Linked DNA regions of Homo sapiens: region 1 is linked to region 2. Evidence: fine-mapped expression QTL. A gene starts in region 2. The other region holds a variant in brackets. All regions are shown on one strand. Distances are between the middles of the regions.

Evidence for each region.
Region 1: its variant is fine-mapped to the expression of NRG1 in whole blood (INTERVAL, PIP above 0.99).

The regions. Positions count from the first base shown.
Region 1 is chr8:32,572,872-32,578,252 of GRCh38, reverse strand. All of the region lies in intron 1 of NRG1 (neuregulin 1), which reads right to left. Among named protein-coding and RNA genes, the nearest start is that of NRG1, 27 kb to the right of the region's middle. The variant C/A (reference allele first, on the strand shown) is at 2,975.
Region 2 is chr8:32,545,442-32,550,822 of GRCh38, reverse strand. NRG1 (neuregulin 1) reads right to left here and starts at 2,512. Exons shown (of 12, transcript NM_013964.5): 1 at 1,997-2,512. The coding sequence starts at 2,096.

The DNA.
Region 1 (5,381 bases), 27 kb before region 2:
GAAGGCTGAGGCGGGTGGATCACGAGGTCAGGCATTCCAGACCAGCCTGGCCAACATACTGAAATCTTGTCTCTACTAAAAATACAAAAAATTATCCGGGCGTGGTGGCAGGTGCCTGTAATCCCAGCTACTCAGGAGGCTGAGGCTAGAGAATCGCTTGAACCTGGGAGGGAGAGGTTGCCGTGAGCTCAGATGGAGCCACTGCACTCCAGACCAGGCGACTGTGTGAGACTCCATCTCAAAAACAAACAAACAAGCAAACAAAAACCTCCATGAGCTAATAGGCCCATAGACCTGCCTTCCTTACTGCAAGTGGTGGCTGGTTTTCTTGCTTCCAGAACCACTTCATCTTCCTTTTATGTTAAACTATCTGGAAAAGCTGATGGCACAGATGAAGTTACAAAGACAGCTCCTCATTTTTGTAAGAAGTGCTATAATGATGGTACATAACAGTTTAAAAAAAAGAGAGAGATGGATAAAGAAGTTAATACTGATTTCTGCTAGAAGAAAATGTCCTCAAGAACCAAGGTCTCGAAAAACAAAAAAAAAAAGTGTTAAGGTTTAAGGGTACAACGATTTAACTAAGTTGTTGAGAATAAATGTTGTTAGAGCCATAACTATGCTAGTTTTTTATTAGGTTCATTGTTATTCTTGTTGGTGTTCAGTTTATAGTTTCGTAAGTTTTGAATTCTCTTCACCTAGCCCTACTTTTTCCAGAAGCCTCTTTATTTTGTGTGTCATTTTGCAAAATGAGTTTTGTTTTGTCTTGCTTTGTTTTTCCCAAAAAATGCAAGCATGGAGTTACAGCAGAAATGTCTGTGGCAGGACAGGGACCTGTCAGTGGTGTTGCAGACAACTTCCCCAGGCCAGAGGTTCCCAAACCTATAACTGTATACATAAGTCACTTGAGCAAGTTTACTAAAATGAATATGAAATATTCATGGAACCCATTGAAAGACTCTGATTCAGTAATTCAGAGAAAAGCCTAACAATATGCTCTTTTACATGGAATCAACCTAGGTGCCCATCAGTGGTGGACTGCATTGAGGAAATGTAGTATATACACACTGTGGAATATCATGTAGCCATAAAAAGGAATGAAACTGCATCCTGTGTAGCAACAGGGATGCAGCTGGAGGCCATTATCCTAAGCGAATTAATGCAGGAACAGAAAACCAAATACTCCATGCTCTCACTTATAAGTAGGAGCTAAACATCAAATACTCATAGACATAAAGATGGCAAAAACAGACACTGGGGACTACTAGAGCAGGGAGGGAAGGAGGGAACAGGAGTTGAAAAACCAACTATTGGGTACTATGCTCAGTATCTGGGTGATGGGATCATTCGTACCCTAAACCTCAGCACCACGCAATATCACTCATATGACAAACTTGCATACGTAGGTTGAATATAAAATATAAGTTGAAATTATTTTTTAAAATAATATAAATATAAATATAAAATATAAGTCGAAATTATTTTTTTAAAAAGAGAAAAATATAGGGAAAAAAGAATCTGCCTTTTAAACAAAAGCATCGCAGGCGATTCTCATACAGGTGGTTAGTATGGGCACAACTTTCTCATAAATATTACACTGTGCCAGGGGCAGCCCTCTCCAAAAGTTATATGGCATTTACAGAGTTAATGTCCACCCCATAAAGTCTTTCCAGTAAAAATGTTTTGTTTTGTTTTTTTAAGAAAAAATGTTTAAGATTTATTGCCCTGGGTAAATTATAGGGAATTGAGACTTAATTTCACTTCTGAAAAAATTCAGAATCTTGTAGAAAGAGACAAATGAAAATTATGGTTCAATTGGCATTGGGATAGTTATCTACAAGGCTCAAATTGTTAGCACTCATATTCAAAATAATAGCCAGGAGTCAATACAGGGTTTAAAAATTATTTTTTAAAAAACAAAAAAAGAAGAGAAAATGAGGGAAAGAGAATCAAATATTCCAAAAAGTTTCTCCTGAGCTAGACACCTCCTTCCATTTTTATGTGTCATGTGAGATGGACTATTCTCTAAGGGCTGAAAGTAATTTCATAATATTTAAACAACTGATTTAAAATAATTACATTATTTGAAAATTGCTAAGAGAGTAGATTTTAAATGTCCTCACCACAAACAAATGGTATGTGAGATGATGACACGTATGCTAAATAGCTTGCTTTAGCCATTCCACAGTGTATGCATATTTCAAAACATCACGTTGTATACCATAAATACATACAATTTTGTCAATTTAAAAATTAATTAAAAATAAATTTTAAAAAATAAAACACATATTAATCAGGAACACATTTATTTTGGAGAATTCCTATGAAGGTTGCTTGAAGATACTTTTTTCCTAAACTTTAGAGCTATGTAAGACAAAGAACCCATTTTAAATTTGTGCTTTCTATAAGACTAGCATATCTGGGTCCTCAGATTTAAATGACCAGATCTAAAAAATAACAGTTAAGAATTATAAAAGGTGTAAGAACTGCCATTCCCAGACCAAGTTTCACCCTTATTAGAACATTCAAGCCTTACATTGGTGTCACCATTTAATCTTTACAAGAATACTCTCTCAAAATTTCCTACTTTATACTTATTTTCTAGGTAACCATGAGCATTAAATGCCCACAGGGATATTATTATCTCCAGTGTAGATCTCTACTTTAAGATCCAGACTTTGTTAATGTTGCTTGTCTTAAAAAGTATAAATATCCATGCAGTTGAGCAGTCCTAAAATACAACTTTTCCTTTACTCATGCCCTATCTCCAGCCCACTACAAAGTTTAGTTAATTTTACTACCACCCACCCCCACTTTCCCATCCCCAACCCTTCCAGGAAGGGAACTTTTATAGTATTAGGCAATAAGCAGAGCCGATGAACTAGTAATTAGTCAACTATAAAGCAACCACAAAAGTAGGAAAGAAGAGAAAGAAGAAGTAGGCCAACCACAAGGCAATTGAACATGAAGTGAG[C/A]TAAAACATGCATCCTAGAAAAAGAGGAAGTAGCCAAGAATGACATATCATGAAGAATGGCAATGCCTATCATGAATGTCTATGCCAGAGGGGTATGTCCAACCAGTATGGACACTAAGACAAAGGTCAATTGTGAAACCTGGGGAAAAATCTGAAGCTGGAGTTAGAAGAAGAGGTATTCCTAGGGAGCAAGGAATGGGATTTATGATCTGCTGTTCAGCTTTATTCTATGTTTGGCTTTAGATTTGTCTAGGGTTTACTTCTGTTCCTGAGTCATCTGGAGTTCCCTGAAAGCAGAGAACTCCATGCTTTCAAGGTTGAAGCATAACTGATTCTCTCACAATCTGGCATTCTGAACAGGATTGAAGGTTCAGAAATTCTATGTACTAACATAGGAGAGTTAGGTGGCAAAGCTGTAGTGTAAACTCTATGAAACAAAGATTACACATTGTGTTAGGCCATTCTTGCATTGCTGTAAAAAATAACTGAGACTGGGTAATTTATCAAGAAAAGAGGTTTAACTGGCCCACAGTTCTACAGGCTTTACAAGAAGCCTGATGCTGGCATCTGCCAGGCTTCTGGTGAAGCCTCAGGGAGCTTTCAATCATGACGGAAGGCAAAGGAGTAGTGGGGGACATCACATGGTGAAAGCAGGAGCGAGCAAGCAAGAGAAAGAGAGAGAGACCACACACTTTAAAATGACCAGATCTTAGTCATTATCATGAGGACAGCACCAAGGAATGGTGCTAAACCATTCATGAGAAATCCACCCCCATGATCCAGTCACCTCCTACCAGACCCCACCCCCAATATTGGAGATTACAATTCAACATGAGATTTGGGTGGGGAAAAATATACAAACTATACCACACAGTGATCTGATCAAGCACTGAATTTGAGATTTCTTAGAATTATATATTTGGGTAAGTTTATTAAAAGCCTTTTGAAGACCTGATGAAATGAGAGAGGGAAATGAGGCCTGGAGAATGTAAAATTAGAGACATAATTACGGAATGTCTCACCCACTTGGAATTTGAATAATTGCATCTACCCAACCAGATTAGTAATGTATAAAATCTTCTATCCTGTTTAAATTTGAGAGGTTACAGCATTATGCTCCTAAGATCTTTAAAAGGTCATGCTGCTATAAAGACACACGCACATGTATGTTTATTGCAGCACTATTCACAATAGCAAAGACTTGGCACCAACCCAAATGTCCAACAATGATAGACTGGATTAAGAAAATGTGGCACATACACACCATGGAATACTATGCAGCCATAAAAAATGATGAGTTCATGTCCTTTGTAGGGACATGGATGAAGCTGGAAATCATCATTCTCAGCAAACTATCGCAAGGACAAAAAACCAAACACTGCATGTTCTCACTCATAGGTGGGAATTGAACAATGAGAACACATGGGCACAGGAAGGGGAATTTCACATACCGGGGACTGTTGTGGGGTGGGAGGAGCGGGGAGGGATAGCATTAGGAGATATACCTAATGCTAAATGACGAGTTAATGGGTGCAGCACACCAACACGGCACATGTATACATATGTAACAAACCTGCACATTGTGCACATGTACCCTAAAACTTAAAGTATAATAATAATAAAATAAAAAATAAAAATAAAAAGGCCTTTGATAAACTTACCCAAATACATAGTTCTAAGAAATCCTAACTCAGATTCCTAATGAAAAGACAGAACTGGCTGGAGAACATAAGCAACGCCAGGTAAAGAAAAATTGAATATTGCTACAGCAAATGGTAAGGATATATATTTTATGTCAGGATATTGGGATAATAGTATCTCTTCAAGGAATATTATAGAGCAGAGGTCAGCAAAATACGGCTCATAAGCCAAATCCTGCCTACCATCTGTTTTTGTAAATAAAGTTTTATTGGAGCACACTTGCATTCATTTGCTCATAAATTGTCTGTGGCTACTTTTGTGCTACAACTGCAGAGTTGGGTCTCTACAGAAATGTTTGCAGATCCCTGTTATCGAGTCAATAAGTCATCATGGAACATCTGTAGAATTTCATCTAGCAATAAGTATTGGCAGGTTTCATAAAGACAGACAGCAGAATGGGAATAATCCATGCAGGGTCTGCATTTTGAGGTCTATGAACAAACTGGATATACAGAGTAGAATATTCAGAATGTTATCTGAGAATGCTAAGGGAACTAGAACCCCATTCAGATAAGGAGAAGAAGCTAAGATATACTTACGATAAATGTTGCCATTACTCGGTTCAGGCAAAACATTGTTTGCAAGTGGGGATAGGATATACAGATTAGGAAAAATGGTGGCGAAATTAACCTCAAAGTCAGAAAATAAATATGTCGCAAATTTGTAGATTAATATATTATTTGATATTTATTTATTTGGTGTGTAT
Region 2 (5,381 bases):
GCAAATGTCACTTAAAGATACTGACTTAGCTGGTTTACAGGGAATCACTGCTGTACCACTGGAAAGCAGATGAGAGCCACCAAGGAAGCTCTGGTGCTCTGTGTCAAGAGAGCGTAGCTAATCACAAGACAGCTGCCTACCTAGTAGATGAGATCTGGAGGGCACAGAAATGCCTGCCCCTCCCCCACTGAACTTGTCAAGTTGCTGTGTTACGGTACTGCTGCTGGGAGCCCTTGACAAAATGCACACCTATTACCTGAACAGGATGCTACTTCAGACCGCTGGCCCCTTCTTAATTCATTAGACCATCTACAGAGGACCACAGAAACTTCTTCTGAAGCCAATGAGCAGGGAGACAGGAGAACACAACCACAAACAGTGATAAGAGCCCCCAAAATAACTCTTTACAACGATTTGAGCTAGGTCTGAAATCTCCGTAATGTACTATGATGACCTTAGAAAGGACAGTAGACAAAGTCACGCAGGGAGGTAACTAATCCAGCTCCCCAATTTCCTATCTTGTTGAATAAAGTGCTATGGTCTCTCCCCAAAATATAGGGTAAAAATAAGGGAAAATTCAATACACCCTCATGAGGGGCAATGATCAGTAATTGAAGTGAATATGATCAGCAGGATCTTATTAAAGAAGCAAGCACAAGAATGGCCAGTGGTGAAACAATTACTCTCTGTTCAATTTCTGTTTTGCTCAAAACTCTGCTGAAGGTCTCTGCCAATAACCCAGGTTCTGAAATGCTATCAGTGATACCAGTAAGAAGACCAAGCAAATGTGGTTTGTTTTCTTCCAGCAAGGGACAAATACTTCTACAGTATTACTGTAGCCACAGTATTATCAAGTACTAGTGAATTAATTCTGCAGAAGTGCTTCATGAAATGTGTGTTGGGGGTACGCTCGAAGCGACTTAAGGCATCTGGATCAATTAATAATTGGGAATTGCAGAGGCAAAAAATAAATTCTCCCCCATCTCCTTCCTCCCCTCTTTTATCAGCTACCTACCAATCACTCATAAACAAGTATTTATTCGACATGCCTCTTTTGTCCAAGGTAATGTCCAAAGCATCAGCGCTTCCTAGGGACATCTAAGGTAAAGCTTTTGTTCATGCTCGTGTTCTGATGATGAAATACAAGATTTGTTTCTAGAAAGCTTCAATTGCCATTTTATTATATAGATAACCAGCAAACAATTGGGTTCAAAAATTCAGATAAACGGTTGTTTTCTTACATCTCTTGGGAAAGTAAATTATCCATATTTATCACAGAGGTCTTGAAAAATAGAACTGTTAAGCCAAAAGTTTGTAGAACTTGTTTGGGGCAGAGCTGATTCCTGACACTGGACTAGATTTCATCTGCTTCGCTGACCTTTAGGAATCCCTGCCGCTGCTCTTGAGTCTCCGTAGCACAGGACTGAATCAAGATGAACCGGCGCGCACTCTACATCGCTTGCCCTGTGCCCCAAAACGCCGAAGCTAACTTCCCACGCGGCCTCTTGCTCGACCACCCACTTCTGCGCTGCCAGGCACACCGAGGGGACCGGCTCTCCCTCCAGGCGGCCCATTCCAGCGTTTCCCGCTAGAGGGCACACGGCCCCCGTGCAAAGCGCTTATGGCGCGGGGCACGCGCGCACGCAGCCTCGACTCCTATAGCCCAGGTCCCACTCCCGGGCTGGGCTCAGCCGCTAAGGCGCTGGGGAGGGGCCGTGCCAGGGAGCGAAGCGCTCCCGGGACTCTGGGAGGGTGCGGCCGGGACTGCTGTCCCTTGCCCTGAGCTCTGGGCGTAGGCGCCCGGTAGGACTCGGCGCCCAGGTGAGCGGCGGCCCCCAGGAGGGGAAGCACCGCGCGACTCAACGGGCGCTCAGAGCGCAGGGCGAAGAGGACGGGCGAGGGAGAGGGGGAGGGAGAGGCCACGGCATCCGAGGAGGAGGAGGAGTAGGAGGAGCAGGAGGAGGATCGTGGGGCCCGGGCCGCGCTGCGCACCCACCTGGGCTCTGGCTGCCCGCCGCGGACTCCGGCTTCTTGCCGGAGCCTCGCTCCTTCTTCTTGCCCTTCCCTTTGCCTCTGCCTTCTTTGCGCTCGGACATCTCGCCGGAGACGGAGCGCTCTACGCGGACGGCTCTCGGCGCAGGCGAGTTTGGTCCAAGGGCTCGGATCGGGTTTGGGAAAAGTTTGTCCCTCGAGGGGGAGAGCGAGCGGCCGCGCTGAGGCGCTCGCGCTGCGCGGGGGCGTCTCCCGTTGCCTGCAGGGAGCGCGGCGCGGACGCGGCGGGCGGTCCGGCCACCTGGAACGGGCGCTCGCCCTGGCTCTCGGGGCTGCTCCTGTCGCCCCGGGAAGTCGTCGATGGGTCCCACCGCTGGCGGCTCGCGTCCTGGCCTCTGCCCGGCGCCCTCGCAACCCGATCGGGGAGAGGTTATCACCGTCCTGCTCACGCTCCCATCGTCCGGCAGCCGCCGCCGCTCAGCTCCTGGCCTCCGCGCGAGCCCGGAGTTCCAACAAGTTTCGGGGAACTCCTCGCCGGCTCTTTTTCAATTGCCCCGCAGCCACCCACCTCCCGCCCGCAGGTTGGAGGCAGGCGCCTCCTTCGCACCCTCCCCTGGCCTCGCCCCCTCCCTCTTCCCCACCACACCCCCACCCCGAGGCGCGGACACGCCACCGGGAGGAGCCTGGGCTCGGCGCTCCCGGGCGCAGCCCCTTTTCCTCCCGCGCTGGCCGGGCGGGGGGTGGCGGCGCGGCTGCCGGGAACCCCCGACAGGGGTCGCTGGACGCTGCGCGGAGACCGAGGCCAGCGCCCCGGAGACCCGGGAACCCAGGCGGAGACCCGAGGCTCTCGCTGCCCGCTCCCCTCCGCAGCCAGGCAGCGCCTGGGAGGGCTGCTCCGTCCCATTCCACGCGGAAAAGGACGGCGCAGAGAAAAGTTTGCGACTCCCACACCTGTGCCCCAAGCAGAGTCTCCGTGGTCAGGAACCCTGGGAGGGGTGCGGGGGGAACGTTGGTGGCTTTCCCAGAAGAGTTCGGGGTTCATTCCTTAACTCACTTAAGTACAAAAGCCCTGTCGCACGCAGGCGAAAATAAACTCTAGGTGGAAGGGAGTTTAAGATAAGGCTTCCTTCCAGGTGCACAGGAAGGGCTAAGCGAACCTTAAAGATGCTAGGTTGCGCTCTCCTGCTGGGTCTGCGCCGTGTGCGTGTGTGTGTGTGTGTGTGTGTGTGTGTGTGTGTGTTTAGTAAGTGCCTGTTAGAAATCTTCAGCTTTTCCTTAAAAAATAACCTGGCCTCTTCTAAGGGGGTGCCCTTAAACTACGTCTCTTACTACAACTTAATTTTCAGAGGAACTGATAAAAAACATAGTTCGGAGCACGACTCAGAATAATTAAAATTACTGCAGCCGCTGAAAGTCACTCAGTTCTGCCGAGTGGAAAAGCAGGCAGGGAGGGGTAGAATAAAGACACAGAACTGGAGATCCTTAATTCGTGAATGTGGGGTTTCTCAGATTCAAACTTTACTCAGAACTGCGCGTGAAACCTACTCCTTCCCTTGTCCTCCCTCTGGTGGAGAATTCTAAAGAGCAAGGAAATAAGAAGGCATTGACCCCTCCCCTGCAAAGGACAAAAGTTAAAGACCAGGGTAACGGGCACCACGGAAGGATCCAGAATTGTCTACATGTAGAGAAAACATTCTCAGAGTTATACCACAGCTGTGGTTAACTTAGACTCTTAATTTACAGTGAAATACTCTTGTGTTGTGGTCGGGAAGTGGTGAGTTGGAACAATCCATATTCAAAATCTATTGCTTCACTTTAAAAGTGACTTGCTCTTGGTTTTCCATTTTCTGGGGTCAATGCTAACTGAACCATTACCTACACACTACCTTCTCACGGTATTTTCTGATGGCCGCAATTTAAATAAAAGTGCAGTCTGGAGTGTCTCCTTGATATGTAGATGGGAAGGGAGGGAGGGAAATATGTTCACTTTAAAACTGTCCTAAAATCACACTAATTTTATTCTAGTTTAATTTGCACTGTCATAAGAACGAAACTCTGTTGAATGGGTTTAACTGTGGAAAGATATCCTAGCAGTCTTGCCATCATTATTTATAGTTTAAAAGTTTGATGTCCAAGTAGCTTCTGATAGCCTTCCTACAAACACCAAATATAAATTTCACTGGGCTATAAAGACAGCAAAAGCAGAGAAAAGATGATGAATATATCTCAGTAGCACTATTAATATTCCACAGAGACGTATGCAAGATGGAGTCTGAACACTGGCTGAAATAACTCTGTTTTCCCAGGAGGGGGCCACTGCTCAGTAAGCAGGAAATAGCAAAATTCAGAGAAGTCCTTTCAAAACAGATATTTTGTCCCAAGGATGTGAGACAGCATAAGGGCTTAGTATACACTACCACATATTCTCTAACATGGCATTATGTTAGAATTGAAGGACTGAAAGCAAAGATGTATTCTGGGATTCTTTTTTAAAAAATAAGATTTTCCCCAATTAAAAAAAAGAAGCTCAAAATCCATTTCTATGGAAATGTTGTAATTCTGCTACTTTTGTTTAGGGTCTGGATGTTTTGCTTCAACAAAACAGCTTACTGGTCATTTTTAGAGTAATTTTTCAGTGAGATAGGGGAAGAGCCTACGATTTTGTGATACATTTTCATTTGAATGAACCTGAAGAGGTAGTTGACAGTCTTCCAAAATTAAGCATACATGACTACAAAAGAGATTACAGATACTATGGTGGCTTTAAGATAAAACGTAAAAGCAGGATTCCTACAGGAATTTTAGGGCTGAGGAATGAATGAATATGAAGGGAGGGAGGTGAGTATAAATGAGCATTTAATAATTGTTTTTCCTTGGTTTGATGTGATGGAGGGGAAAAGACAGGACAAAAATTGCAATGATAAATATTGAAGGGACTTTAAGGAAAGATGATGAAATGGCAATTGCATGACAACAATCCTTTCTGGAACCATATCCAGATTCTCGAGTTACATTTTAGTTATCACTTGTAGCTGAATTCTCAGGAAATTCAAGGCTCAGTCCAAAAAGGTTTTTTTCTAAAAATCGTTAGGTCTTTATGTTATTTAATGTTAATTTTAAGGGGTTTTATTACATTATTTATGGCCAGCTAAAAGATTAACCAAATAAATGTCCATTTCTTGGACAGTTAAAACATTTATGAGATTTATCAAGAATTTGATATTGTCCTTAAATTATTCATCTCTGTGGTCAGGAGTAGCAAATGAATTTCTTTTGCATTTGTAAAAAACCTTGGAACTGACCAGAACAAGGGATGGAGAAAAGAGGAAGAATATTTTTGCTTTAAAAAAAAAACCCAATTGTATAATTTAGAAATGATGACATATCTT